Regions from separate parts of the Homo sapiens genome. Here regions 1 and 3 are each linked to region 2. The links come from fine-mapping of genetic effects on gene expression. A gene starts in region 2. Each other region holds a variant in brackets. All regions are shown on one strand. Distances are from middle to middle.

Region 1 (10,597 bases), 750 kb before region 2:
ACTAATAGCTCTTGAATTCTTTGCTAAAGGTAACAGCAACACTTCCAGAGGCTTCTAAAACACTACTGTTTTGCAGGGCAGGAGTATTCTGGAATCTTTTTACTTAGATATAAAATAAACCTCGAATATTAAAAAGTTGTAGCCATCTGAGAGAGGAAAGTTTAAGTGACTGAAAATGTAGAATACTTCAACGTGCATGTTACTACTTAAAACTAGTCTTTCTGCTGGAATCTAAGGAGTATATATATATATGCCCCCTTGTGGTTAATTATTGCTCCTTTAATAATTTTTACTTGAAATGATCCACAATTATTTCATAACTTTAGCAGTGTGTTTTGGAACTACTGTACTTAAAGGTTTGTTTGTTTGTTTTTGCCATACTGTATAATTTGGGTGAGGTCTACAAAATTGGGTGTGACTTTCCTTTGCAAATGGATTTCTCCTGGGGAATTTTCTTGGCTGTTCTGGAAATGCTTTCCCACAGCTGGGTAACTGTTCTAAATGGCTTTGATAATGCTCACACATCTTGGAGTTTCAGAAGGAAATTATTCTGCATCACAAATACTAAATTTTATATTTCTAAATTACTATAGGTCATTTAATATTGGTTTATGGTGCTTTTATTTCCTTAACTTGAAAACATCTTTCTGAGATTTCAGAGTCCTCAAATTTCTTAGATTAAGAGACAAGAGGCCAGTGCAGTGGTTCACACCTGTAATCCCAGCACTTTGGGAGGCCGAGGTGGGTGGATCATTTGAGGTTAGGAGTTTGAGACCAGCCTGGCCAACATGGCGAAATCCTCTCTCTACTAAAATACAAAAATTAGCTGGGCATGGTGGCAGGTGCCTGTAATCTCAGCTACTCGGGAGGCTGAGGCAGAATTGCTTGAACCCAGGAGGTGGAGGTTGCAGTGAGCCGAGATCACACCACTGCACTCCAGCCTGGGAGACAGAACGAGACTCCTAATCAAAAAAAAAACACAAGAAAATAGAGTGAGGCTTTTTTACCGTATATACATAAAATACTTATGAAAATTAGAAGATAATTTGGCATTCCTACTGTTTCACTGTACTTCCATTGAAATACTCTTTCCATTAAAATATTCTGAAACAATATAGTAATAATGGAATTGTGATCTTCAGTTGCACCTCAACCATTTTTTTTGCTTATGAACTAAAATTTCTAACATTAACATTTCGGCATGTAATAAAACAAGGGCCTATCTCCTTTAAAATTTAACATTCCATGTAACTTTTCTGACTTATCATTCATAAGTTGCAAATATTACTATTTTCCTAAACCAGGGTACACAATTTAAGTTGCCACTTATTGATGACAGAATTTCTGGATAGTAGGATTTTAATAGGCGAGCAAATAAAATTCAAATCAATTTCAAGGAAAAACATCTGGCCAGGGGTAGCTTGATTTCGCCCCCAAAAATACTGAAGACTAATCCATTGACATTCATAATGGGACAGCTAAGTACCAAATAGCTAACTACTCCCTATGGAGGTTTATGCAAGCAGAGTACCAGGGGTTCCATCATATCAACCTGGCAATGCACTTGGTGGTTGTGTGACCTTGAGAAAGTCTCTTACTCTTGTTTATGTGTTCTTACTTTAGAAACTGAGACTTTATTTGTGGTTTTCACACTATTTCAGCAGCAAAAACTTTTTCAAGGAAAATCTTACAGAACCTTTAAACACGTGTGCATACACACATACCCTATACCCCACTATATAAAAGTCATATTATTATAAATTTCCTTATTATATAAACTTTATATACTATAAATGTGATTAAGTCAATGAATAAAAACATTAATGCATTGGTGATATCCAGCATGTTTGAATTTGGTGAGTAACACACATATAGTGGGAGTCGTTTTTTTTAAAAAAATTTTTTAATTAAATTCAAGTCAAATTTGCAGAACCCTGTATCTCCTCCATAGATTCTTAGTATTCCATGGAACATATTTTGAAAACCTTGGGATAGATGATCCACTGAAATCTTTTCCAGCTCTAAGATTTTAAATTGTCCTTTTAGATTAGACTTGCTGAGTTTAATTCAGATTACCTAATTTTAAAATGTTTCTGAAAAGTGAACAGAGTTACCTTACAGAGTTTTGGATCTTTCCAGGGATAGCCAATGATTTTATCCCCCAGAATCCTTCACCTTTCAAGGAGTTATTTAACAATGAGCCCAGTGACTCAATAGGGCCCAAACCTTTTTATTTTACAATATGAGCTCCAAGACACTTACTGATCTACTGTGAATATAAAATGTTATTAGCCTTATCAAATAAATAAATGAGCACAGCTCTTTGTTCGCTCTATTGAACTGGGTGATAATTATTTAGATGTGAATGTTAGGTCAGTTCTACTGTAATAACTAATCGTAAAAGTTGTAAATTTGTTTAATGGATGAAATGTACACTTTTTGTATTCTGTACAGCTTTGTCTTTTTTAAATATGAAGTACTTAAATGTACTTACTATGATAGGAAATATAATGTGTGCCTTCTAGGATTTGTGAAGTGGTTTCATGAACTCTAAGGAATTTGTTTTCCCTATCCTAACTCAGTAACAGAGGGTTTACTCCGATTATGTATAGAACCTTAGTTTGAGAAAATGAATTTTACTATGTACTGAATTTAGAGGTTGAGAATAATAGGATCTGTGTTATTCTTAGTACCCACTGATAAATTGTGCAATAAATAATCTTTCGCAAGTGATTTTAGCTAATTGAAGAGATTATTTTCCTATGTAATTTCACATTCTAATATACTAAATGTTTATATTCCTTAGAGAACTATTTTATATTGTGCGCTGGGGGCTTGTGATGTTTGTGTGCTGTTTTAAAATTCATTTCAAATTGGACTCGATTTCCTTATATCTAATATATATCTGGGAGAAAAGGCTGCTTGAAAATATCTTTTGATTCAGTGATTTTTAACATTGGGAAGTTGAGTTTATTAAAAGGTAGTCTGAAGAATTTGCATTTTTAACTGCTATTGTCTGAAGTCAAGCTTAGTCTATCCGGGAATAAGAAAACTACTTGCAGATGAGGGAAGTTAACAGGTCACTCACATTCATGCTGGGCCACACAATGACGATACAATACAAACCTAAGCAGCTGACAACAGACTCATTTGTTCGTATGTCTATTCACCCTGCTGTAGCAGTCCTCAACCTTTTTGGCACCAGGGACTGCATTCATGGAAGACCATTTTTCCACAGACCAGGGTTGGGGTGGGAATAGTTTCGGGATGAAATTTTTCCACCTCAGATCATCAGGCATTAGTTAGATTCTCATAAGGTGCATGCAACCTAGATCCCTCGTATGCGCAGTTCACAGTAGAGTTCATGCTCCTTGAGAATCTAATACCGCTGCTGATCTGACAGGAGGTGGAGCTCAGGCAATAATACTCACTCGCCCGCGGCTCAACTCCTGCTGTGCGGCCTGGTTCCTAACAGGCAGCAGACCAGTACTGTCCACAGCCCAGGGGTTGTGGACCCCTACCCCAACAGACAGCAAAAATAAAATGCTCAACCCTATTGTAGTTTGTTTACCTTGTAAAATCATTTCCAAAATATAAGAATGTAATTAGAGAAACATCGTAGAATCTTAGTGCTGAAAAGTGCAAGGACATAAGAATGAGTGGCAGTTGGTAGTTAAATTGACTGTATCATCATACTGTGGAGAAATGCACATTTTACTGTCAAAATACATAAAAGCCTTTGCAGAGATAGGTTTTGACACGCTTGCAGCTGTTTATAGTCTTACTCTCTGTCATCTTCTATCTTACTAATTGCAAAAATTTCCAAGGAACTGTTTATCTGGTTAGTATTCCCCTAGTTACACTTGTTCTTTATAATGATCATAGTTCAGGCAGAGTATTTGGGTATATCACCTTCAGTCATGTCTCAAACGCAGGAAATGAAGAATATTGTTTCACCAACACTCAGAAGTAAAGAGAAAGCAAGAGAAAAGTGCTTTCGGCTCTTGTTTAATCCAAGAGGCCGTGAAAAATCACAACCCAGGAGCTGTGATTTGTTTTCACGAGGCAAAGAGCAATGATGTCGATCGGTTTCAGCGGTACAATTTGAAGTAACACATAAAGTGAACTTGAGCCCTTAAGGATAAAGAAGGGATAACTGCCTCAAAAACTGTTGCTTTAGAAACCTAAGCCAGTATACAATTAATTGCCTCTTATTCCAGTTGCAAACACAAAGGAAAGTAGGGATTTGTCCCCCAAAAGGCCAATTAAGTATAGCAATGTAATAAAAGCACAAAGTGCTATAGAAAAGATGTCAGAAAAGCTTGCAGGACACCGCTGCTAGCCCCATACCCCGAGCCAACCAAACCCCAAAGACACCCCATACAGTTTATGTAGCTTACTTCCCCAAAGCAATACACTGAAAATGTTTCGACGGGCTCATATCACCCCATAAACAAATAGGTTTGGTCCTAGCCTTTCTATTAGCTCTTAGTAGGATTACACATGCAAGCATCCCCGCCCCAGTGAGTCACCCTCTAAATCACCACGATCAAAAGGAACAGGTATCAAGCACGCAGCAACGCAGCTCAAAACGCTTAGCCTAGCCACACCTCCACGGGAGACAGCAGTGATAAACCTTTAGCAATAAACCAAAGTTTAACTAAGCCATACTAACCCCAGGGTTGGTCAATTTCGTGCCAGCCACCGCGGTCACACGATTAACCCAAGTCAATAGAAACCGGCATAAAGAGTGTTTTAGATCAATTCCCCTCAATAAAGCTAAAATTCATGTGAGTTGTAAAAAACTCCAGTTGATACAAAATAAACTACGAAAGTGGCTTTAATGCATCTGAACACAGAATAACTAAGACCCAAACTGGGATTAGATACCCCACTATGCTTAGCCCTAAACTTCAACAGTTAAATTAACAAAACTGCTCGCCAGAACACTACGAGCCACAGCTTAAAACTCAAAGGACCTGGCGGTGCTTCATATCCCTCTAGAGGAGCCTGTTCTGTAATCGATAAACCCCGATCAACCTCACCACCTCTTGCTCAGCCTATATACCGCCACCTTCAGCAAACCCTGACGAAGGCCGCAAAGTAAGCGCAAGTACCCACGTAAAGACGTTAGGTCAAGGTGTAGCCCATGAGGTGGCAAGAAATGGGCTACATTTTCTACTTCAGAAAACTACGATAACCCTGATGAAATTTAAGGGTCGAAGGTGGATTTAGCAGTAAACTAAGAGTAGAGTGCTTAGTTGAACAGGGCCCTGAAGCGCGTACACACCGCCCGTCACCCTCCTCAAGTATACTTCAAAGGACACTTAACTAAAACCCCTA[C/G]GCATTTATATAGAGGAGATAAGTCGTAACATGGTAAGTGTACTGGAAAGTGCACTTGGACGAACCAGAGTGTAGCTTAACACAAAGCACCCAACTTACACTTAGGAGATTTCAACTCAACTTGACCGCTCTGAGCCAAACCTAGCCCCAAACCCATTCCACCTTACTACCGAACAGCTTTAACCAAATCATTTACCCAAATAAAGTATAGGCGATAGAAATTGTAAATCGGCGCAATAGATATAGTACCGCAAGGGAAAGATGAAAAATTGCAACCAAGCATAATACAGCAAGGACTAATCCCTGTACCTTCTGCATAATGAATTAACTAGAAATAACTTTGCAAAGAGAACCAAAGCTAAGACCCCCGAAACCAGACGAGCTACCTAAGAACAGCTAAAAGAGCACACCCGTCTATGTAGCAAAATAGTGGGAAGATTCGTAGGTAGAGGCGACAAACCTACCGAGTCTGGTGATAGCTGGTTGTCCAAGACAGAATCTTAGTTCAACTTTAAATTTACCCACAGAACCCTCCAAATCCCCCTGTAAATTTAACTGTTAGTCCAAAGAGGAACAGCTCTTTGGACACTAGGAAAAAACCTTGTAAAGAGAGTAAAAAATTTAATACCCACAGTAGGCCTAAAAGCAGCCACCAATTAAGAAAGCGTTCAAGCTCGACACCTGTCATCTAAAAAATCCCAAACACATAACTGAACTCCTTGCACCCAATTGGACCAATCTATTACCCTATAGAAGAGCTAATGTTAGTATAAGTAACATGAAAACATTCTCCTCCGCATAAGCCTACATCAGACCAAAATATTAAACTGACAATTAACAGCCCAATATCTATAACCAACCAACAAGCCATTATTACCCCCACTGTTAACCCAACACAGGCATGCCCACAAGGAAAGGTTAAAAAAAGTAAAAGGAACTCGGCAAATCTTACCCCGCCTGTTTACCAAAAACATCACCTCTAGCATTCTCAGTATTAGAGGCACCGCCTGCCCAGTGACATGCGTTTAACGGCCGCGGTACCCTAACTGTGCAAAGGTAGCATAATCACTTGTTCCTTAAATAGGGACTTGTATGAATGGCTCCACGAGGGTTCAGCTGTCTCTTACTTTCAACCAGTGAAATTGACCTGCCCGTGAAGAGGCGGGCATAGTATAACAAGACGAGAAGACCCTATGGAGCTTTAATTCATTAACGCAAACAACACTTAACAAGTCCACAGGCCCTAAACTATCAAACCTGCGTGAAAAATTTCGGTTGGGGCGACCTCGGAGCACAATCCGACCTCCGAGCAACACATGCCGAGACTTCACCAGTCAAAGCGAATTACCACGTTTAATTGATCCAATAACTTGACCAACGGAACAAGTTACCCTAGGGATAACAGCGCAATCCTATTCTAGAGTCCATATCAACAAGGTGTTAGCTGGACAGACTAAAATAATACCCCGGGAAAAGGAAAGGAACATGTATAGCTTTGCTCATGAACTATAACAGGGTAGAAGTTAGAGAAAATAACAAAGGAAGATTTATCTTCTGGGTCTGGTGAGCTTCAGTTTGAAAATTTTGAGTTTTCCTAGTGAATGTCATTCATGTCGGAGTCTTAGTAAAAGATAAATTAGCTATTATTATTGATAGCTTTTCATGGTGCCCAATCTTAAGAGTAAAAATCTTTAACATTTGCTTTAAATATGATTATCTTTAAATAGTTTTAAACTATTGAGCCACAGTCCTAGCTGACTTTATTTAACAATTTAAAAAAAGATACTTGATACAGATAAAATGACAATGAGAAACTACACAATACTTCCTATGTTAGGGCAAATGTATATAAACGGGGGCTTTTCAAAACTAATCCCTAAGATAACAATGGATTTTCATTCAATTTCATAATTAGCTGTAAGATAGCATATATATCTGCCTAGTAAAAAGACTGCATTTATACTTCCATATGCTGAATTGACCAGTGGAGGGGACAGGCATTATAAAGTCACAAGATGAGACAATCTAAAGTCAAATAAGTTCACAGGCAGAAACTGGATTCTTCTTCTAACTATAATGATTCAAAAAGACCTCCTGTAGTCTGAATTTGACCACAGAAATAGATAGGAAGGTCCTTGAGCAGCCTCTTAAGTACTAAGAGCACATGTCCTTAAAAAGTTGCCAAAAGAAATTCACTTAGTTATTCAATATGCATTTATTGAGCACCTACTACATACCAGGCACTAGTAACACAGATAAAGAGTACACTGATAAAGCTTAATTCAGATTAATCTTTAAAAATGCTTTCTACTTGGCCCCTGGGACCATTGTATCTTCTGAAGTCATCATAGTAGATAAGGGAGAAATTTTGCCTTAAAAAAATGCATCCGGTTACAGTGATTAAAAACACACACACACACACACACAACTAACATTTGTGGGGTCTAATGGAATAGTGGGGAAAAGACAGGATTTGGAATAAGGAAATCCAGTTTAGGCCTATTACTTATTAGCTGTGTGCCCTTAAGTTAAATTTCACTTATCTGGCCTAACTCTTAATTGGTAAAGTGATAATTGGCCTACAGTTGTAGCATATTAGAGCCAAAAGGAACAGAGATCATCTAGTCCTGTGCTTTTTGAAGTTCTTCGTTCAAATGAAAATATTATGTAGCAGCCCCAGTGTAAAACTGATGAACGCAGTCACTTTGACAGCCCCTGAGCATCACTCACTCCCTTCCCTCCCCTACCCTAAAGTATTCATGAGGAGATTCACAGAACACCCTGAAAGCCACTCATCTAGTCCAAACCCTCACTTTCTAGGTGAAGAAACCAAGACTCAGAATAGGAGTGGCTGTTTTCATGAGTACATTTGGCTTCCAACTAGAAAGAGGGAAGGAGGGCTAAATAAAACGGTTTAAGAAATTCACTAAAAACACAATTTGTCAAGAAGGAAGTCTTCCATCTTAACTCCTTCAAAGTAGCCCCTTTATGAAATGGAGCTTTGAAATTGATTGTGTTTAAGGCAGCCAGCCATCCAGAGGCTGAAATGAACAACTACCAATTAGCCTACCTGGGCCAATGGAGAAAAGTATGGCAGAAAACCACATGTTACTTGGCATCTGACCAGGGAAAATCCTGGCCCCAACAGTTCAGGCACTGGCAGTTTCAAGAGAAATACTTGGAAAATTAGGAACAAGTATAGACAAGTGCTCAGCTCCCAGATCCCCAAGGAGAAGTCACCATCTTGTTACTCAGAAATACTAACAAGTGAGCATGTTAACTCTTAAAGTGAGCAGTGCAACCAAAATCACCAGTTTAAAATTTCTTCAGAGGCATCCTCTTCACAGAGGAAAGTCCTAGTTCGGAATCTTGACCACTATTAGCCACAGCAGACTTGAAATTGAACCAAAAAGTTAAAATGCATGTCAAATGCTGGACCTAGTTGGTCAAGGCGGTGATCTCTTCTGATTTCATAGCATCAGACAGGAAGCTGAGCTCATTGCATAAGGTCTCATATCGGAATGCCATCCGGATCTGAGCCACATTTGTCTTTCGAATATCATTTCCTTCAGGTCCTTCTTTATAATAATTTTGTCCCAGAAACTTTTGCTTTTCCTGTGGACCAAGAGAAATACAAATGAAACTATATACTTTTGATTCACTTTCTATAGCCATGTGGGCAGCTTTGACATCAGTCACAGCAAGTCAGACTAGTCCCCCTGAAGCAGATCTTTGGTCAGGACATCTTATCCCCACAGAACTCTTAAAATTCCTGCTGGCCTCTGTGTCCTCAAGGATGTCACCCTGACAACCTCAGTCATCCTCAGACAGCCCTTCATTCCTGGCTGTGCTTTCCTTGATCAGAGAGGAAAGATAAGGTCTGCAGCAGCTGCTGGGGATGGGAAAGGCAAAGGGGAAGGAGGTAAGACTCTAATTAAGAAGCCCCTGAGAGCTGACAAGGACAATGTTCCTGGGGAGGGCCAATCCAAGGCACCACACTGCGCATGAAAAGAATCTTAAGCCTTTAACTCTGCTGCATCATCATCCGACGAGCACAGCCCCTAATGCAACCTCTTCCCAACCAGTGACATCACCCAGGGAGGTGTCGGGGGACCTAACGTACATCAGAACATGGGTCTCAGTGCCAGCTCCTCATCAGGCTTTTTAAAAAATGACAGATGTCTGAGTCCCATAGTCTAGATTTTTATTCAGTCTAGATACTGTTCATCTATTCAAGAAATATTGAGCGCCTGCTATGTGCCAGGGACTATCTAGGGCCCGGGGATATAATTCTGAACAAACCTCTGCCCTCACAGAGCTTACATGCTAGAGGGAAAGACAGAAAAACACATAACTAAACATCAGCAGGAATAAATGGTATGGAGAAAAACTGATTAAGGGGATAGAGAATAATAGCAAGTGTGTGGCTATTTTAGAATGGGCGATCAGGGAAGGCCTCTCCAAGGAGGCGTAGAGGTCTGAGAAGGGTGAGGAAGCAGCCATGAAAACACAGGAGGCTGCCGCGTCTTCTCTCCCTGTGCCTGAGTGTCTCAGAGGCCCTGCCTGCTATGTTCATCACAGATCCCCAGTGCCTGGAAGGCTCCTGGCACACAGCAGGCAGCCTTCCCAGGAGGGACACAGGCAGCACCGTCACACTCCATACCTGATGCGAGAGGCCGCTCTGCAGCACGCTGTTCCTGGCGATCTCACACAGGTCGCAGGTGCTCAGCTTCCACACTTGAGCTGCAATGGCATATTCTTCCATAAGTGCTTCCTAGATCCTCCCCCAAAGCATGTGGATTAGAAGGGGGGATATCCATGTCAATCGTTCACACATGTCCAAAGCTAACAACATCAGACACTGCGGGTTTAACTTTTCCTCACTAAATGGCACCTGGATCATCAAACATCACACCTTCAAAGCCTAAGATCTTTTCTTCTGTAAAATCATGGGTTATCAAAGAGAGATCTAAAATCACGCCTCTACATTTATTCATTGACCAGCACTGAGACCTCATGTTGAAACCCTGTGCCAGTCATCAGGGATGGCAGTCTCTGCTCTCCTGTGACAAGCCCTCTAGTCATGCCACATTTAGCACTTGCCCTCTAGCTTTTCTTTTTAACACACTATTTTCTTAAGTTTGCAATAGATAGATAGATGATAGATAGATAAATAGATAGATAGATAGATAGATAGATAGATAGATGAGTAAAGTACTAAAAGCAGAGATGGAACATCAAAAAAAAAATGAGA
Region 2 (10,597 bases):
TAACATATATACACACACATATATATATAGTAGCTTATGTATTACACACATATATGATATATTCTATAGATATAGATCTGTCAGACATATGCGTACATATATAACTTCAATAGCTTGCCATAAAACTCTGCCCAAATGAGGTTCTCTGTACTGGATGGTGACAGACTTAGCCAGTCATAAACATTCTCTTCCTTCATTTTCTTCCTTGGAGAGTGTGAATGTTTGGTCTCACTGAGAAGTCAGGTCACTTCAAGCTCCAGTTCTATCCTAACAATGGTAAGCTATGTTCCAGTTTTCAATTAAGCCTGCTGAATATACCTGCCTTGAAAGAGTGGGATTTAGAGTGACCTTACAGTTCAGACAGAAACAGCTTTGCTGCTGGGCGTGACTCTCAACCCTGCATTTAGCCCTCATTATCCAAGACAAATGTCAAGCTGCCTCTGCTGGAGGGTGGAGCTAGACAGCCACACTATACCACGTATCCTCCTTGTCCACAGCTGATTTGAGCAGGGCCACCTCACCAGAGGGAGGTCGCACCCATATCCCATCCATCAGCAAATCCTGATTACCTTCAAAATACGTCCTAAACTGGACCACTTATCACTGCCCTCACCACTGCCACCCTGGTCCAAGCCACCAACATCTCTCACCTGGATTTCTGCAGTTGCCTCCTAAGTGGTCTCCCTGTCTGTCTCCCTTTCCCACCTTGTCCCTTTCAGTCTATTCTCATCACGGCAGCCAGAGAGGTCCTTTTTAAAATCTAAGATCATGTCATTTCTCTGTTGAATATCCTCTAATGCCTCCCCTCCTTCTTGGAGTAAAAGTCTAAGTCCTCACAATGGCTTGTAACACAATTCATGATCTGTCCTCTGCTACCCGTCTGACCTCATCTTCCACCATCCTCCCCATGTTCACACAACATCAGCCACACCAGCCTCACTGATGTTCCTCACACAGTGCCACACAGTTCCCACCTCAGGACCACTGCACTTGCCACGCCCTCTTCCTAGAGCATTCTTCCCCCAGATATCTTCACGGCTCACCCCCTCAATTTCTTCAGATCTCTGCTCAAATATGACCATATCAGGGACACCCCCTCTGAGTATCCTATATGCAGCAGAAACCCAACCCCTCCCCAAACTGCTCCCTGCTTTATTTTTTCCATAGCATTTAACGTCAGCACACATGTAACTGCCTACTGTCTCTCTCTCCTCATTAGAAAGTATGCTTCATAAATGCAGCAACTTTGTTTTGCTTGCTATTTTTCAACACGTAGGAGCTTTGTTGAGGTACAAACAGTCACATAAATAAGCACTTGGTAAAAACTTGTAGAAGGAATGAGTAAGAGTGGCTGAGAGTAGACCATGAGCAAGAAAATCGAGCAGAGGGAGCCTGCTGAGACAGGAATGAGTACAGAGAAATGTGAGAAAGAGAGGAACCTTGAGGTCCTCGGGAGACGGAGAGAAGAGCCACCGTTCCTGACTTTCCAGTTCCAATCTTCATGAGGCCTGAATGTCAGTGCTCTCTGCAAGGTTGTCCACTGTATTCTCACAATTGTACTCCTCATTCTTGAAAACATTTGGAGTTTTCTTTGTTCCTTGCAACAAAAACAACCTTGACTTGAGCAGTATCCTTCCAACCATCCATCCACCCATCTCTCCAACCCTACATGCCCTCCTAATCATTTATACTTCTTTTTTTTTTTTTTTTTTTTTTTTTGAGACAGTTTCACTCTTGTTGCCCAGGCTGGAGTACAATAGTGCAATCTCAGCTCACTGCAACCTCTGTCTCCTGGGTTCAAGCGATTCTCCTGCCTCAGCCTCCTAAGTAAGTGGGATTACAGGCATGCACCACCACACCTGGCTAATTTTGTATTTTTAGTAGAGACGGGGTTTCACCATGTTGGTCAGGCTGGTCTCAAACTCCTGACCTCAGGTGATCAGCCTGCCTCGGCCTCCCAAAGTGCTGGGATTACAGGCATGAGCCAACGTGCCTGACTGATCATTTATACTTCTAATCATCTGTCTACAGATCAGTCCACTAGTCCATTCATCCCTATAAGCATCCATTATCCTAGAGTCCACCCATCACCCATCGATCCATATAACCAACAACTATCCATCCACATGTTACCCTTTCATAACCTCCAGGTAGAGGGGAGTAAGGTCATGAAGGATCTCATCACAGGGCTGAGGCCATCCAACTTTAATGCTGAAAAGTGGGAAGCTATGGAAGGATTTTGAACAGGAAAGTTATATAGTTGGACCTGTATTTTAGAAAAATAACTCTGACAGCTATAAGCAAGATAGATAGGTCTTACTGTCTAAAGGCGGGAAGACCAGTTGGGGTAATATTAAAATATTCCAGATGATGAATTAGGGCAGAGACACAGGGGCTTCAGAAAAGAAGATTCAAGGGAGAGACAGGAAAGCAGCTCTGGGAACAAGCCCAAGCCAGAAGGGCAGGCCTAGATGGAAAACTGTCTAATAGGGGGCCTCAGTTTTGCAATCACCAGCTCAGCCCAAGCACTGTATTTGCCCCAGATCTCAAGTGGAACCAGGCCTCCTGCACATTCTGCACATTTGGGGCAGAGTTCCCAAGAAGCCCAATCCAGAACCAGTCCTCTCTGGGCCCTTCAGCAGAGCACTCTGTCCTGCATCTCAGGTCTCTGAGTAAGTGGTATTTCCAGAGTACACATGCCCCCACCAACTCATCTCACAGCTCAGCCTTGGCTACAGAAAGCCAGGGCCTCTTCTTTGTTAATTTTCTTCAACTCCTCAGAGGTTGGGCCTCCGGCCCAGTGAAGTCAGGGTCTGGGAGGCAGCCCTGGCTCCCTGCCCGCCCACAGAGGATATATTTGGAGCAAGACAACTCCTTCTGGACACAGAGCTTGGGACCCACCCCGCAGGGCTGCCCCAACCAATTTTACTGAGTATCCACGCAGTGTGGTTGTCACTCACGTTTTCACTTGTTAGTTCATTCATTTGTTTACTCATTCATTCATTCCACAAACATTTATTGATCTGCTGGTATGATGCAGCAGGTACAACAGGATGTGTGGTGGGCACATATCTGTATATGTGTGTATATGGGTATCTCTAAGCAAGGATGGCAGAACACACTCTGGGTGCCCTCCCTCAGGGTTCAGTGGTGATGATGACTCACACTCAGGTGTATATGGCATCTGTGGGGACCTGTGTGCAAGTACATGCAGGCACGTGCTCTCTGAGGAGGTAGCTATGACTCAGTGGCACGCGGCATCTGTGGGTATCTGTGTGGATATGTGTCTGAGTGCAGGCATGAGCATAGGCGCTTGCTCCCCAGGGGGTGGGGGAAGTGGTTGTGACTCAGCTGCACATGGTGACTGGGAGCCTACAGGCCAGCTGTGACTTTATGGCTTTGCTTATTTGCCAAGCCAAACAGTTAGTGTTGGGCGTAAATATTCTATCAGAGTGTGCATGGAATAAGTCCTGAGCTAGGGACCTCCAGCAGGCAGGAGAGACTCAGTAGTCTTGGCCCAGCAGCATCTGTCCCCCGCCTGCCCCCTCCACCGTAGGTATACAGGTCCTACCCTCCCTCCCTCGCCCTCTCCACTCCTGCCTCCTGGAGACTCAGCGAGCTCGTCCCTCATTGACTCTACATCACCCCTCACCCACCGGTCCCAGGTGCACACACGAGACCAGGCCCAGAGGTACAGGGCTGTGGCCTTCGAGCTGCCAGCCCAATCCATTTTTCTACCATACCAAAAACCCCTTCTTTTTCAGCCCTCATGACCGCGTCTTCCTCCAACATCCCAGCCCCGGTCGTAGGCTCGGCAAGCCCGCTCCAGGGCCCACTTCCCATCTCGGCGGCCGCAGACCCGCTGCCTCCCCATCGGCGCGGCCCCATCTTCACCTCTGAGCTCCTTGCCCCTCTCTCCCTGGCTGTCTCTGTCCTTATCTGTCCCAAGTCTATCTTTGTCTCTTCTCGAGCCGGGCTGTCTGCAGCAGAGGCTTCACCAGAGTGGAGGTGCTGACAGAGTGCGGGGTGTGGGGAGGACAATCTGTGTCCCTTCTTGAGCCTTATCGGGAAAACTTAAGTCACTGCTCAGGGCTCAGACTGGAATTTCGCCCTAGATGACCTTGCTGGGTCTGCTGGGGCCTCCGCAGGGACAGCCAGGGTCAAACGAGTCAGGAAACAGGCCCCTGCTTGTGGGCCGCCTGCCCGCCCTCATCCCAACCAGGCCGCCTGCAGCGCCCTCGGCGGGAGACGCCGGGGAGGGGAGAGAAGGGAGGAGACGGGAGGGGCGGCCCCGTCTTGGGCACTCGCAGGGACTGGCGGGAGGCCGTGTGGGGCTGGAATCGTGACCACGGATGCCGCAAGGCCACAGGGCCCTCCTCGGGGTCCCGGCCGGAAATCCTCAGGGGCCCGAGGAGGAGCCGGGGCGGCCACCCGACCACCTCCCCGCGGGCCGCAGGCAGGCGGCGCGCCGTACCCGCCGAGAACGCGGGAAGAGGCCATCGCGTCTGGACACCTGGGCTTCGTCCCAGAGCCGTCACTGCTGTGTCCCCTTGGGCAACTGCCTAGCTCCCTGAGCCTCACTTTTCACACCTGGAACATAGGAAAATTGCGCCCACCTTCTGGGTCGTGGCAGATAAAATGAGTTCACGTCAGGGCTGGCTCTCAGGAGGCGCTCAGTGCTCGTGGCTTTCCTCCCCGGTGGACAGAACCCCGGGGCAGCTCCCCGCGCCCTGACGCCCAGAGCGGAGCGGCCCGGAGCGGAGCGACCACCGCACACTGGACCCGACCCTAGTCGGCCCCGCGCGCCCGGGTCGGGGCTGGAACCTGCGGGCGTGGCGCACGCCTGCCACCTGGCGGCGAAGCCCCCAGGCCGCCCGTCCCGCCCACGGCTGCGCGCGTGCGCAGGCCTGCACCACCCAGTCGCCCCCACCACGCCGCGCCCCGCCTCCCTCGCCCAGGGACTTCCTAGGCCACGCCACGCCGCTCCACCAGCTCAGGGAACCCCCTTGGCCGTGCAGACCTGCGCCACAGGGTCGTTTCCTCCCCTCCTTCCCTCGAAAGCGTATGCATTTCGTTGCCCCTGGAACTGGGGTCATTTCAGGACCTCCCAAGGAGGGTCAGGATGGTGGTATTGGCCTTAGGGGACGCGGGCTCAGGTTGGCGGTTGAACCGCATGTTCCTGTTTCAAACAAACCTAAATGTAGGCCTGGAAGGCTGTGCACTGAAATCCTAGTATTAGGTTGGTGCAAAATTAATTGCGATTTTTGCCATTGTAGGTTGTCTGCAGAGTGAGATTATGGCGAAGCATTTTATTCTTTTTACAAACCTGCTTTTTCTCAGTTTTCCACATTGGGTATGTATTGGTGATAAGGAAAAAAAAACTACAAAAGATATTTTTTGAAAAAAAAAAATCACATGGAGAGAGAGAAAAGGGGACGAATTGGCCTATCAAGGGGGTTTCCGGAAGTTAACTTTCTAGTATCTCTGTTTGCATGTAGACTCCCAGGGTGCCCTGGGAGAAATGGAGAAATGAAGCCCAGGACATGAGGCATTGGGATGGATGGTCCATCTTTCACATGTGCTGGGATTAACTTCCTTTAAGAAAAAAGGAAGGCAAAAGGGTTCCCAGCCTTAGGGTTGGGTGGGGTAGAGGCTCCAAATAAACCAGAAACTCTTGAGTAGAGGTGGTCAGTCATTGCTGTCTGGTTCAAGCGCTGATTGGACCCAAGGGGACCAGATCCAGGATATATTTGAGAACAAGGAATTTATTTCAGAAAGGGGCCACTCAACAGTCAGCATTTACTAAGAACCTGCTTGGTACAGGGTGCTGGAACTACCACAACGAGGCTGCCCCTTCCCTTAAGGAGTTCTGGGCTGACTTTTGGGAAAGTTCATCAGCGGTGACGGGTAGTGAGTGAGGCAGATCAGCAGGAACATTACAAGCCGCAGGAACCGTCAGCTGCTGATAGAGGCCCTGGGAGGTAGAGTGGAGAACAGCTCTGGCCACCACAGCTAATGGCCACCAAGGGAGCGACAGGACCCTTGAGGGGAGAGCAGAGGCTGGAGGTCCTTGGGGTCTACTGGGAGGTGGCAGTCACAGGCCCTTGGGTCCTCTCCACAGCCTTGCTGGAACCTTCCAAAGAGCAGGTGTGACTGGGGAAGTGTGTTGCTGGGCTGTCACCCTCACCTGGGACCTCCTCTGTGCACTCATCCATTCACAGATTTGCCAGCTACCTGCCTTTGCAGGACACCTCAGAAGTTACAGACTTGCCTGTGGAAATGCAGAGAGCACCTGAGGTATTTCCCGGACTCTCCAGTAGTAGCCTTGAATGGCTGACCAACCGCAGTCACCTGCCAGATCTTCTCAGAACCGGCCAGCCCACCAGCGACAGGCCCATTAAGTGGCCTGGCCCAGCCCAGATGGAAAACCCCCTCCACGTGACTTTCTAAAGAACATGCATGAAGACAAAACACCAGGTGCCTCAGGTGTGACACCCTGAGGACACATCACCTGTACAGTATCCTAACCCACCCAAGATGACACAGTAAGGTAAAACCACAGTAGAGCCCAGGCCTGTTTGACTCTGAAGTCCAGGCTCCTTTCCAACTTAGTGCCCTAAAGGCCTGATTGGGGTGGGGGTAGGCAGGAAGATTCAAGCACTGATTGTTTGTAGCCCAGGCTGGGAGGGCAACAGCTCTAGAAAAAAAGTCACTCACTGCTTTAACCATCTTCCAGCTAACTGCAGTGAGGTGTACAGGGCCATGGGGCTCTGGGATGAACTCTTCCACCTCTACACCTTGTAAACAAGGATTCCAGACACACCCTCCAAATGGGAATGGAGACACACGTTTGGCAGAGTTGGACAGTAACGCTGCTCTCCTATCAGCCTGGACTTTGAGGGGAGTGGAAAACATGAGTGTGGAGGTGCAGCAGTCCTGGTATCCCCTGAAACCAGCCTGTGGGGGGAACAGTCTTCCCAGGGGAGCTGCTCAGGATCGTCCTGGTCCCATGCATCAGGAAGAAAAGGGAACCTGAGAGCAGAGGGAAAATGCAGAAAGTGGGGCAGGGAGACTGCTCCCTGAAACCCCCATGGGCTGCTGGTCCAAGCAGAAAGTGTTGTCGGAGGGGGGAGAGGCAGGGTGAAATGGGACAGGAAACGAGGACTTCCGATGAGGAGGAGGAGGGGGCAGTGGGCTGCGGGTCTTGGGGACTGAACAGAATGGGGTTTGCTAGACAGAGCTTTCGTCTACCCACTCCTGAAGTCCTGCTGGACCTCAGCTGGCCCTTGTGAACTGTTGAGGGGGATATAAACACAAAGGCCTGCATTCCTGTGGGTGCACAATCCTAAGAGACCATGGACTGCCTGTGTGTGGTGGGAACAGGAAAAGGAGGCTGAGTGTAGCCCTGCTTGGAATTTAGTGTCCACCACAGATGTATCCACTACCCAGGGCCAAAGACTCGGCAGCCTCAGAAGACTCAATGGAAGCTGAGCACAGGACTAGAAAGGGTCAGGGCCCTCCTCTGTATGTAGGGGTGGCACATGGCCACTAGCTGGGTGATGGGGCACTGAGAAATTAAATGTTTGACATAAAAATGTAATCAGGACCCGAGAGGAGGTGGGTGGTGTAATGAACAGCATCCTAGAAGTCCGGTACAGATTTCACGTGTCACCTTCTAGTTCCTTATCTGAAATTGAAAGGTGAGGTCAGGTGCAGTGGCTCAGGCCTGTAATCCCAGCACTTAGGGAGGCTGAGGAGGGCATATCATTGAGGTCAGGTGTTTGAGACCAGCCTGGCCAACATGGTGAAACCTCTACTAAAAATACGAAAATTAGCCGGCTGTGCTGCACACGCCTGTCGTCCCAGCTACTTGGGAGGCTGAGGCAGGAGAATCCCTTGAACCTGGGAGGCAGAGGCTGCAGTGAGCTGAGATCACACCACTGCACTCAAGCCTGGGCATCACAGCGAGACTTCTTAAAAAAAAAAAAAAAATTTAAAGGTGAGCCAGTTCAGGCTTCTAGAGGCACTGCAGTTACAGACGGTAAACTGCACAAATCCTGGGTGTGAAGCTGTTTTTTCCTGTGTAACCACCACCCATTGACAGCATCCCAGAAAGTTCAAGTGTGTCCCTTCCCAGTTTACAGCCACCCGCCTCCCACCCTCACTTCTAAATCCACCGATTAGCAGTGTGTCTTGGAAATTAATATACAAGGAATCATATAGTATGTGCTCTTTTGTGTTTGGCTTCTTTGCTCAAGATGTCCGTGAGATTCAGCCGGGTTGCCTCTCTCTGTAATATGTTAATTTAGGTGTAGTATCCATTGTCTGGAAATACAATTGTCTATTCTCTACTGGTGGATATTTGAGTGTCTCTGGTTTGGGGCCATTATAATAAAACTGTTGTGAATCTTCTTATACAAGTTTTTTGGTGGACATCAGCCTCATTTCTCTGAAATGAGTGGAAACTGCTGGGCCGGAGGGTAGCTGTTGTTTTTAGCTTTAGTGGATATTGCCAAGTAGGAAGTAGGGAGGTGATTATTACAGTCTCTAATATATAAAAAAGGAGTAGAGGGGGAAAGAGAGGAAAGAAATAGAGATTCCATAAACTATTCCCAAAACTGATCCTTTAACAAATCTGGAGCACCTCCTCTGCACTGTAAAAGCTGAGGAGTGCCTCTTCCCACGCTTTCATATGTCTTGATCTTATTCACCTGATCCTCACCCCACTAGGGCAGCTGTGCCTTGCTGGAACTACCCAGAAGGTTGCAATTAAAGCTTGGCCAGTTAGAACAAGCACAAGCGCTGTGCGGGACACATCACTACCTGAGTGGCAAATCTGAAAATTCATTCCTCACAAGCTGCTAAATGGTGCTGACAGACCCACCCTGTGTTTCACCACCTGGAAAGAAATCAGGGTTAAGGCAGCTTTTACACTTCATGCCTCAGCAACTTGCATCATAGTCTTTTAAAATATATCCAAAGCAACCCCCTCCAGAGGCTCTGGGTGTGTCAGAGGTCCCTGCCCTCTGCTCTCTGCCAGCTCACAGAGAAACAGGCATTCTCCCTTCCAGGTGCTCCTCATTTGCACTGAAGAGGTCAGTCAACTCCTAGGACATCTGAAAGGGAAACCCTGACTCCAAGGGTTATATTGTGTTCTGGATAATAGAACTTGCCTTTCTGTAGAGCAGGTTTTCTCAACCTTGCCACTACTGACATTTTAGTCCACATAATTGTTAATGGGGGCTGTCCTGGGCATTTTAAGATGTTTTGCAGCATCCCTGGCCTCTACCTACTCGATGCCAGCAACACTCCCTCCAGTTGTGACAACAAAAAATGTCTCCAGACGTTGCCAAATGTCCCCTGGAGGGCAAAATTACCACCAGTTGAGAACCACTGTGATAGAGAAAGAACAGTTTTTTGTTTTTGTTTTTTTGAGACGGAGTCTCCCTCTGTCGCCCAGGCTGGAGTGCAGTGGCATGATCTTGGCTCACTGCAAGCTCCGCCTCCCGGGTTCACGCCATTCTCCTGCCTCAGCCTCCCGAGTAGCTGGGACTACAGGCGCCCGCCACCACGCCTGGCTAATTTTTTTGTATTTTTAGTGGAGACGGCGTTTCACCGTGTTAGCCAGGATGGTCTCGATCTCCTGACCTCATGATCTGCCCGCCTCAGAAAGAACAGTTTTTAAACACACCAACCAGTGTCCTCTCCCTCCCTCCAAGAGGGAAAGATCAGCTTTCCAATATACAATCAAGCTGGCCTGAGTGGGCCCACTTAGTCCACAACAGGCATTTTATCTTGGCAACAATGCAAACCACAACAAACAAACAAAAAGCCACACGGTTTACTCTGGTGAAAGAAAAACTGAAAGGCATAAAAAGAAAACTAAGGAAAACAGAGGTAAGAAAATTTGAAGGTAACAGCAACAATGAATGAGAAATCATCTTTGTAAGTTCCCGTTTGTGAGCTGACACATCAGCCATGGCTTCCCCACATTCGTGACTCAAACACCAAACATGAGGCCACAGCTAACTTCTTGGGGTCTAAACTCCAAACCCAGTGTTTTCAGGAAATGTCCCTAAACCAAAGTCCATCTCATTATATGAAAATACACATAGATACACCCAACTTTACCCCCCACTGTTTTATTAAATCAGACAGTTTAAAGTGTATGTTCTGGTATTTTTAATTTTCTTACTGGGTCCATTTTACTTAAAAAAAAATATAAAACATTTTTAATGTATCTTAGAAAAATTAGCAAAAAATTGAGAAAGTTGAGCATATTACATTGTACAATGTTTTCATACGAATGTTTTAAAATCATAAATATTTGGTTTCCCCTCAACATAGCACATCACAAAAATACATTTCAAAAACTTTTTTCATATATAATTCCTGTAAATGATCATATCCCTACTTATTAAGGAAAACACCTGATGACAAGCACTCAAACACTCTTGAAATTTTCTGTACAGTAATTACAAAAGTAAAACCAAGAGTTCTGTTGGCCCTTTAACAGGTGAAACCATTTTAAATAGTATCAAAATATAATTCCAAATGGGATATACTTAGTTCATTTCTGTGCTATCTTTGATTCACA
Region 3 (10,597 bases), 48 kb before region 2:
TCTTAAAAGTTAACTCTTAAAGCAAATTCTTTTTTTAACTTTTATTTTGTGTTCAGGGGTACATATGTAGGTTTGTTGTATAGGTACATTGCATATCTTGGGAGTTTGGTGTACAGATTATTTCATCACCCAGGTAATAAGCATAGTACCTGATAGGTAGTTTTTCTATCCTCACCCTCCTCTCACCTCCAACCTCAAATACGCCCCAGGCGTCTATTCCTTTCTTTGTGTCCATGTGTACTCAATGTTTAGCTCCCACTTATAAGTGAGAATATGCAGTATTTGGTTTTCCATTCCTGTGTTAGTTTGCTTCAGCTGTGTTACTGCAAAGGACATAAGCTCATTCTTTTTATGGCTGTGTAGTATTCCATGGTGTATATGTACCATATTTTCTTTATCCAGTCTACCGTTGATGGGCATATAGGTTGACTCCATGTCTTTGCTATTGTGAATAGTACAGCACTGAACATGTGTGTGCATGTGACTTTATGGTAGAACAATTTATATTCCTTTGGGTATATACTCAGTAATGGGATTGCTAGGTCAAATGGTAATTCTGTTTTAAGTTATTTGAGAAATCACCAAACTACTTTCTACAATGGCTGAACTAATTTACATTCCCACCAGAAATGTATATACATTCCCTTTTCTCCACAGGCTCGCCAGCATCTGTTATTTTTTGACTTTTTAATAATAGCCATTTCTTAGAACAAATTCTGAGCCCAAAAGAATTCAGGCCTGGTGATAGCTATGTTGTAGAAACAGTTACATGAGGAGCTTCTCATTACTGAGTAGGGCATTTGCCTTATTCCTGTGTTTAAAGTAGCCTAGCTCTGTTTAAGAGATGGGTTTTTTCATTTTTGTTCTTGTTCAGAGTTGGATTCAAATTGCAAATTATGTCTGATGATCATTAAAATATTTTTTAAAATTACAATGTTATACATCTGGTTTTAAAATCTATATACTATTCTCATACCTTAATTGTTTATTAAGGACTTTGAGCCAATTGATGTGGCTTTAAAAACTTAGCACAAATATATTGAAAGTTTTTTTCTCATTTAGTACACAGTATAGACAAATAGGAGTATCTTTTTTATTTTTATTTTTCGAGACAGGGTCTTGCTCTGTCACCCAGGCTAGAGTGCAGTGGCACAATCACAGCTCACTGCAGCCTCGATCTCCCAGGTTCAAGCGATCCTCCTACCTCAGCCTCCTGAGTAGCTGGGATTACAGGCAGATGCCACCACGCCTGGCTGGTTTTTGTATGTTTTGTAGAGATGGGGTTTTGCCATGTTGCCCAGGTGGTCTCAAACTCCTGAGCTCAAGCACTACTCCTGCTTCAACCTCCCAAAGTGCTGGGATTACAGGCGTTGAGCCACCACACCCAGCCAGGAGTTTCTTTTTTAACATATAATTCACTTACCATAAAATTTATCCTTATGATAAAGGTGCACAACTCAACGCTTTTTGGTATGTCCACAACATTGTGTAACTATCACCACTATCTAATTCCCAAAAAATTAAGAATACCTGAAATAGGCCAGGCGTGGTGGTTCACGCCTGTAATGCTAGCACTTTGGGAGGCTGAGGCAGGTGGATTACCTGAGGTCAGGAGTTCAAGACTAGCCTGGCCAACATGGTGAAACCTCGTCTCTACTAAAAATACAAAAAATTAGCCGGGTGCACTGGTATGCACCTGTAATCCAAGCTACTCGGGAGGCTGAGGCAGGAGAATCGCTTGAACCCGGGGGGCAGAGGTTGTGGTTAGCCAGGATTGCATCACTGCACTCCAGCCTGGGTGACAGAGCGAGACTTTGTCTCAAAAAAAAAAAAAAAAAATGTCTGAAACAAAACTTACTACATCATGGAAAAACAAATTTTAAATCCAATAAAATTCATCTGAATTTCCGTCTTTTGTTGGGAAGTCCACATAGAATCTCTGTTTTTTGTACTCTATGGAATTATAGCTCACCTACTTTTGGGGGAATCATGTAAGGTAATTTTATTTCATTATGTATTACTAGAATGTATTGTTTTAAAATGTGTCTACTTTTTTGAAGTGTCATTTTGTTGTTGTTTTCATTGAGATGGGGTCTTACTATGTTGCCCAGGCTGGTCTCGAACTCCGAACCTCAAATGACCTGCCCGGCTCGGCCTCCCAAAGTGCTGGGATTATGGGCATGAGTCATTGCATCCAGTCAAAAGTGTCATTGTTTAATCTTGATTTGAAAGAACTTTAGGTATTTAAAACATTATGTGGTTCTTTTGTGCAAGCGCTTTATCCCTAAGTCGTTTGATTATCCAGGGTTGAAAGCAACTCTCTCTGACTTCTGCACTCAGAAAGCGCTTGGTCTAATTGTGTTCTCCTTCCTGTCTCTTAGCTTCACAGGATAATGCAGCTGGCTGTGGTTGTATCAGAAGTACTTGAGAATGGTTCCTCAGTTTTGGTCTGTTTGGAGGAAGGCTGGGACATCACTGCACAAGTAAACTATTAGACATATTTTTTGATATTTTATATTTATATTTCCATTTGGTCATTTTTAAATTCTTCAGATGACTCTTTTGTATAATGACTAATGTGTTTATGGACAGAGAAAGTCCTGTGTTAAACAGCACCTGGTATCCATCAGAAAACTCCGTACCATGAGCTCTTAGCCCCTACGCAGCCTGGAGCTCTGGCTCCGGGCATCAAGCTCTCCCATCCACAGATGTACCATGCAGGCTTGCGGATGGAGCCCTTGACCAGCAGTGTGAGGCGTGGACCATCCTTCCTGGGTTTTGTCAGTCCATCCCCTGGCTCTCTATAAGCCCCGCCTTAACTCACTCCAGAGTGAAAAGTGTGAGTTCAGACTACATTAAGACATTAATCTGCATCTGCCAAAAAGTAGAATTGATTTTAACTGATCCTCTGGCCTCTGATTAACTTAGGAAAAGGTTGCTGTCAGCAAACTGGCCAGTTAAGGATTAAAGTCTCAATTCCCTGAAAGTAAACTTGTAGCCAAAATGAATTTGAGCTTTAGTTTTTACTGGCAAGTTTACAAAATTAATTTTATTGGCCATCCTGGAATGGTTAGTGAACAAATTTGCTGTCCAGGTAAATTTGTGAATTAGCTATCATCAGAAGGAAGTGCTTTTATCTTAGTAATAGGCCTTTTTCAGAACTAAAATTAATGACAATCCATCCTGCTTATGCCCTAGGTGACATCCCTGGTTCAGTTACTCAGTGATCCCTTTTATAGGACACTTGAAGGCTTCCAGATGTTGGTTGAAAAAGAGTGGCTCTCTTTTGGTCACAAATTCAGTCAGAGGAGCAGCTTGACCCTCAACTGTCAGGGGAGTGGTTTTGCTCCAGTCTTCTTACAGTTCTTAGACTGTGTACACCAGGTAAGTAGAGCAAGCTTGAGTTGACTTGATATGAAGGAAAGAACACAACATACTAGCATTGATGGAGCATTGCGATGGTGTGCCCGGTACCTTCCTGTCATAACTCTGATTAACTCAGCCACAGGACATGCTGAAATCTTAGCAGTAGACTCCTAGGAATGGAAAAGAAAAAAAATTAGTTGGTTTCTGAAACTAGGACAGCTAAGCTGGCTGTTGGGCTTGCCCCAAGTGAAGTAGCCAGCACTCTAAATGACCATCTTCAAAGAAGAGAAGCAAACTTGGGCTTATTACCTAAGAACAAAATCTCTAGGTAATACGGGTCCTGAAATCGAGCACATGGTCTGCCCAGTTTGGGAGGACCCCAGCTTGTGCCTGGGAACATAAGAGGTAAAGCCTAACCCCTGGAGAAATAATCAGGGCCCAGCCAGACAGGCATACAGGCTTGAGAACACTGGTCACTTCTACCACATGGAGAAACTGTGGTACATATATACCATGGAATACTATGCAGCCATACAAAAGAATGAAATCATGTCTTTTGCAATGACATGGATATAGCTGGAGGCCATTATCCTAAGCAAATTGATGCAGAAGCAGAAAACCAAATACCTCATGTTCTCACTTATAAGTGGGAGCCCAGGTATATCCATTCAAATGCAGTGAGGGTAGGGGAGATGTGACTGCTCTAGGCTCCCTCCTGCCTTCATCGCAGGCACATCAGATACAGACCTCTGGATGGGGCCTTGGTCAGGATTGGGTTTGAGAATTGGATGGCACTGAGCTTGCAAGTTGAAGACTGAATTGGCCTAGGAAAAGCAGGCCTATTTCCAGCTTTCATTTGACCACAATCCCAGGGTTGGATGAATGGGTTCTGGCATGTCAAACATTTGTGGGAATGGTGAGCCTCTTTGAAACACACTGGCCTCAAATATCGATTGGAAAGAAAGGCAGAACTATGTTTTCAGGAACCAGAGTTGAAACTAACTGTGATGACACCAAGTTAGTATGTGGTTATGTTTTATTTTGTTTTTATTCTAGTAATCACTTGATCAACTTTCCAGATCACTACATAATTTTTGTAAATAACAGCTTTATTGAACTATATATATCATACAATTCACCTATTTAAAGTGTTCAGTGGTTTTGAATCCATTCACAAAGTTTTGTAACAATTACCACAATCAATTTTAGAGCATTTTATCACTCCAAAAAGAAACTCCATACTCATGAGCAGTGACTTTCCAACCTTTCACCCCACACACAGGAAGCTATGTTTTTTACTGCTCTAATTTACTTATTAAAGACAAGACCGATTGACGAATTTCAATTGATCTGTCCAAGCAGTAACTGGAGGAGCTGGTCACAAGGTTAAGCATGTACCTTTAAACTCTTTGCAGCAAAGAGTATACTATATTTGTTTTCTGTTTGAATATTGGCCCTTTTATTCATACTCCTTTTGGCAAATAGATGAGGGAGAAGTTTGGAGACCATTGTCTCTGAAACAGAAAGCTTACCTGAGGCCAAAGGAGAGGAGCAAGCATCTATCTCTTCTCACTTCTAGGCAGGTGAAAGCATATGAGTTCTTCATGAAAGCACTTCTTATCTTGCTTTTTTATTATGCTTATCAATTGGACTAGACTATTTCCTGCCTCCGTATACCACCATTACTAACAATAATTACTAATTTGTGTCGACTGCTTACTATGTGCCAGGCACTGTTCTGAGCACTACACATGTTATTTTAGTTCATAATTCTTTGAATCTTTTGCTGACCCTCACGCTCCCACTTTATATGTATTTCTAATGAGTCAGGTATAGACTTCTTTGATAACATCTATAGCACTAAAGTATGTTTATTTGTATGTAACTATTGCCCTCTACTTAGTCTGAGAATTCTTGGGAACAGGGACTATGTCATACTAGTCTTCATATCCCTAGTATCTAACACAATTACAGTTTCAGTCTCTGGAATATAATAGACAATAAATAGATAATCTCAATGAATATATGAGAATTTGAAAGACCACAAGTCTTGTTCATGCTCTTACCACCCTTCATCAAGACCATCTAGAATATCCTGGTCGGGCGTGGTGGCTCACGCCTGTAATCCCAGCACTTTGGGAGGCCAAGGTGGGTGGATCACGAGGTAAGAGATCAAAACCATCCTGGC[C/T]AACATGGTGAAACCCCATCTCTACTAAAAATACAAAAAATCAGCCAGACGTGGGGGCGCACGCCTGTAGTCCCAGCTACTTGGGAGGCTGAAGCAGGAGAATCGCTTGAACCCGGGAGGCGGAGGTTGCATTGAGCTGAGAAGCCCCCACTGCACTGCAGCCTGGGAGACAGAGCGAGGCTCCGTCTTGGGGGAAAAAAAAAAAATCTAGAATATCCTAAGTAGAATTGCTGGCATAATCTTCCAAAAGCTCAGATACAATCCTTTTATTCCCCTCCACAAAAGTCTTCAAAGCAAACAAACAAAAACCTTCAGTGGCTCCACATTTCCTAAAGAATTACCCTTCCACATATCCGATTTGAATATAACTGGGGGGAACCCAAATGTCTGTCCTACAGTAGGTGAATGGCTACACAATCTGGGATACATCCATACCGTGGACGACTACTCAACAGTAAAAAGGAATTACTGGCACATGCAACACCTTGAAGGGATCTCAAGGACATTATATTGAAAGAAAAAAAAGGCAATCTCAAAGGGTCCAACTGAGTATGATTCCATGTATATAATTTTTTTTTTTTTTTGAGACAGAGTCTCACTCTGTCACCTAGGTTGGAGTGTAGTGGTGTGATCTCGGCTCACTACAACCTCCGCCTCCCAGGCTCACGCAGTCTTCCCACCTTGGCCTCCCAAGTAGCTGGGACCATAGGTGCACACCACCACAGCTGGTTAATTTTTTGTATTTTTGGTAGAGACAGGGTTTTGCCATGTTGTCCAGGCTAGTCTTGAACTCCTGAGCTCAGGTGATCTATCTGCCTTGGCCTTCCAAAGTACTGGGATTACAGGCGTGAGCCACCATGCCCAGCTAATATTTTAAAATGACAAGATCATAAATTATTGGTTGCCAGATTCAAGATAGTGGGGGAGAAGGAAATGAGTGTGACTATAAAGGGGTAGCATGAAAAACAAACCAAATGTCCATCAACCGATGAAGAGATGAACAAATTCTGGCATATTAATTCAGTGGAATACCACTCAGCACACAAAGGGAATGAAATATTTATATTACAAAGACTGACCAATCTTGTGATCACTATGTTCAGTGAAAGAAGCCAGGCAGAAAAGACTACTACATAAGTTTATTTATATGACATTCTAAAAAGGGCAAAACCATAGTGACTGAAAGCAGATCAGTGACTGCCTGGGACCAGTGACCAAGGGAGGGGATCAATCATCATGCAAAGGGCATAAGCAAACTTTTCAGCGTCAGGAAACTGTTCTGTATCATGATTGTGGTGATGGTTACACAACTGTGTACAGTGACCAAAACTAATAAAACTATACACTTAAAGTAGGGAAATTTTATTTTTAAATAACACTTCAATAAATCTGGAGGAAAAAATAATAATCTTTAATTAGTAAGTCCAACATCTCAGTAAACTAGAGTTCCAGAGAAAGAAAACAGCAGCTACCTTGTTTCTACGGAGAAGAATTTGTCTGGGGCCCAGAAAGTACTTGTAGGTCTGGCTGCTTGCTTTATGGAAACAGGGCAGGAAATAGGTCCAGGGAAATCCCAGTTCAGTAATGCAGGCTTTTCGTTTTTTCCATGCTATTTTCAGTGTTTCCACTAACCCAGTTGTGTCTGGTGTTCCCAAGTCTAGAGCTTATCAGGTTTGTTTTTTTGTTTGTTTGTTTTTCAGAAAATAAACCTCCGATCTGTTGCTCTGAAAAGGGTAATCATATGACTACATGGGGTGGGAAAGGACCTGGGGTCCTTTCCTGCCTCCATAGACTTCCAGCTAGTCCCACGATAGCCTCCATTTCACCCCTGCATTACTCAATACTTGGGCCTCTGTGCCCTGAGCCTTTCTGGGTTTACACAGCAAATCGTTACCTTCTCAAATCATTTTCCTCCTGGCAGGAATCCCAGTATAGCTTCTCCTCTTCTATCATTTACTGCTATTCTTCCTTCTATTTTCCATCTTTCAAAAATTTGCTGAATTGCTTTGGCCCAGTGCTGTGTTTCCTCCCATTCTCCCCACTCCCTTTTGGGTTTTTTACCTCTTAAAAATTCCTTTAATGTGGGAGGATTCCAGGGGAATGAGCTTGTACAGCCAAATCTGGCTTAAGTTAAATGGACTACTTAATATGTTAAATCTCTATGTTCAACTTGCAGAATTCTGCACACCTAAACATTAGGGTCAGCGAAATAATCCACTCACAATCAGTAAGAGATAGGAGGTTCTCATGTAAGATACACTGTCCTCAAAGATGGGAACATCATTGTCTCCCAAGTACAATAATCCTTACTTGGAATGAAATTCTTCTATTTTATTATTGGGGATGGGGCTGGGGGGGAGGAGTGGGAGAGGTCTAGATGCTGGAAGGTAACCTGTATTCTGTGAGTACCCCTTAAGTGGTATGATTAAAGCAATTTAACATACACTAAGATGTAGCATAACTTACATTCCTATTATCTTTAGAATACAATAGATGCTAAAACTACAAAAGGCTAAGTTAATTAAAACAATTTGGGGTATATGCTTAATTTCTGCTGTTTTGTTTTATTTACTAATCAGCTGAATTTAAGATTCATCTGTTTTTTTTTTCAAGTAAAGAGTTAAAATTCAAATGTTTTATATAAACCAGTTGATTCTGAAATCAAAAACAGAAGTTAACTTTTAATTAAAGTTCGATTATTTGTAGGTGAATGCTTCACAAACTGTAAAAAGTAATATTGTTCAGGATCTAGAGACCCTATCAGTATGACTTCAAATCTGGCTGTGCCAAATTAAAATTTTTTAAATTAAAACATAAATTTTTAAGAATTTGCCTGAATCCTCCTTTCACTTAATACCTCATACATAATAACCTAAGTGCAGACAAGTCATAGCAAAGCAAGCATATGACCTTAATTGCAGTAAGTAAAGCATGCTTGGCTACCAGAGGTATCAGCTTTGGTGATGCAAATTATTTTGTGCTGAAAAGGGATTGTTTATTCACTCAAAAACAGAGGAATCTAAGAAGACTATAGTTAGCAAATAGTTTTTCTGACTCTTGCTGACTTAATTATAAGGTAGTGTTTCATCATCTTCGACATACTGGTTTTAGGCATTAGAAAATGCCTTCTTTGAATGCCTTTCAAGTGAACACTAGTGCTTTACATGACTCTGGCTTTTACCAGATAATTCGAATTAGTGCTGCCCTCAGTCTCTCAGGGACACACAACAGAACTAGGCCCAGAAACATCAAAAAAACAGGTTCAAAATTACACAGCAGCAAGTGAAGCTTTCCCAGATGGAATGTGTTCCCTGCTTATTAACCATTTCTAACATTGAATGCCAAAAGGCAGTCCATGGACATATGCCTAGGCTTGTCCATTAGTACTAATAAAGTTACAAGAAAACAGATGAAGCACTGAACTTAAATTAGAACTGCCTCATCATATAAAAAGCCATTGTTTACGCCAGTATATCCAGGTGTCAAATGAATTATAAATGCTAGCTCACTGTTTCATAATAGCAACATCTGGCAGATTTTTTGCTTCTAAAAGAAATTGGCTTAGCTCAAATGATATCATTACAGGACTCCCTTTTCTTAAAATAGTTGAGCCAAATTAAAAAAAATCCAATATACAAAGATTAAATTTTTATGTAAACTTTCTTTTTAAAATATAATATCAGGAGAAAACATGAATAGTATGAATGAAAACGTGAAGAAAGCATCCCCTTTATTTCGGCATTAGAGTAAATCTTTGAGGGCATCTTAGAACTTTTTCAGTATTTTTTACTGTGATTTCAAAGTTTATTCAAATTGTAAATTGATTCACTTTGGTCTGGCTTTATGTGATTCTCCTCATGGTTACCTTATGACAGCACTATGCTAGGTCCTACCCCAAAGAAAAAAGCTATTTGCCTTTTGAAGATATGAGCCTTCCTTGTGAGCACATATGTGAGCAGCTAAGCTGCCCCCACACAGGTTGGTTATTCTAAAATTTATCCAGTAATATTGGCAAAATAGCTGTAGCTAATGGATTGTTGGTATATTCAAGAGTTTCTGCTGTCTGCTGCCTATTCAACTGCAAACTGGCAAAAATGAACATAATCCAATCTGTTTTATAACAAGGCAATTTTGCATCAAAGCTTAATATTTAAGGCCATGTAATATGGAAGGATGTAACACAAAGCACACAATGTTTGTTAAATCTTAATTTGTGAAATAACAAAAATTAATATTAGCTATACACTCTCCTAGGGTCTGTTTAACCATATCCAGGTTTTCACGTGTTGATGTATAGTGTCTCTTGTAGCTCAATATTTATAATTCTGAAAGCAGAATCCAGTTTTAATGTATTAAACTTTACTTCCAAAATGTTGATCTTTCCAGGGGTTTGAGTCATAGCTTATTTTTATAGGCCTTTAAATTTTACAAAGTACTTAATGGCACATGGGCAAAAAAAAAGACCCTATAAATTCATGTTTCTCCAAATTCCATTTCAGATTCTCTTCTTATAAATAAGTGAAGTTGGCAAGTTTCACTCCATAACGGAAAAACAAAACTAAAATGCTTCATGCAGTTTAGTCTTTTAAGTCTGTATACTTTTTAACCTGCAACAAAATAAATACAAAATTATTTTGAACAACAAAATCCAGATGATACCTGAGAGAAGCCTAAAACTCTATTCATCACCATACTTAGGGAAATGCTGACATAGAATTAATTTATTAGCTGAAATACCTATCATTCCCAATTCTACATAATATAATAAGGCTAAATTTATTTGAAGCACACTTGCCTTTAGGTCCCCAAAATCTTGTGGCCAACAATAAAGAAAACTAATGAAACCAAAAGCTGTTCTTTGAGAATATCAATAAAATTGATAAACCTCTAGCTAGACTGCTTGAGAAAAAAAAGACACATATTACCAATATAAGAAATGAGAAAGATGACGTCACTACAGATTCTACAAATATTACAAGGCTGATCCTGGGTATGGTGGCTGAAGCCTATAATCCCAGCATTTTGGGAGGCCAAGGTGGGTTC

Evidence for each region.
Region 1: its variant is fine-mapped to the expression of SBF2-AS1 in lymphoblastoid cells (GTEx, PIP 0.99).
Region 3: its variant is fine-mapped to the expression of SBF2-AS1 in whole blood (INTERVAL, PIP above 0.99).

What each region holds. Positions count from the first base shown.
Region 1 is chr11:10,504,069-10,514,665 of GRCh38, reverse strand. It overlaps AMPD3 (adenosine monophosphate deaminase 3), which reads right to left. Exons shown (of 15, transcript NM_001025389.2): 14 at 10,007-10,117; 15 at 7,087-8,958. The coding sequence ends at 8,782. It overlaps RNF141 (ring finger protein 141), which reads left to right. Exons shown (of 6, transcript NM_016422.4): 6 at 1-2,993. MIR4485 (microRNA 4485) reads left to right here and starts at 6,340; the gene lies at 6,340-6,396. It also overlaps the pseudogene MTRNR2L8. RefSeq lists an enhancer at 2,777-3,687 and a silencer at 5,250-5,544. The variant C/G (reference allele first, on the strand shown) is at 5,344.
Region 2 is chr11:9,752,523-9,763,119 of GRCh38, reverse strand. It overlaps SBF2-AS1 (SBF2 antisense RNA 1), which reads right to left and starts at 4,827. Exons shown (of 3, transcript NR_036485.1): 1 at 4,617-4,827. It overlaps LINC02709 (long intergenic non-protein coding RNA 2709), which reads left to right and starts at 3,587. Exons shown (of 3, transcript NR_033972.1): 1 at 3,587-3,691; 2 at 5,277-5,353; 3 at 6,222-8,350. SWAP70 (switching B cell complex subunit SWAP70) reads right to left here. Exons shown (of 12, transcript NM_015055.4): 12 at 10,127-10,597. RefSeq lists silencers at 4,378-4,497, 4,618-5,017 and an enhancer at 6,489-6,548.
Region 3 is chr11:9,800,787-9,811,383 of GRCh38, reverse strand. SBF2 (SET binding factor 2) reads left to right here. Exons shown (of 40, transcript NM_030962.4): 31 at 2,382-2,483; 32 at 3,199-3,384. SBF2-AS1 (SBF2 antisense RNA 1) reads right to left here. Exons shown (of 3, transcript NR_036485.1): 2 at 2,100-3,536; 3 at 65-1,124. Among named protein-coding and RNA genes, the nearest start is that of LINC02709, 47 kb to the right of the region's middle. The variant C/T (reference allele first, on the strand shown) is at 5,555.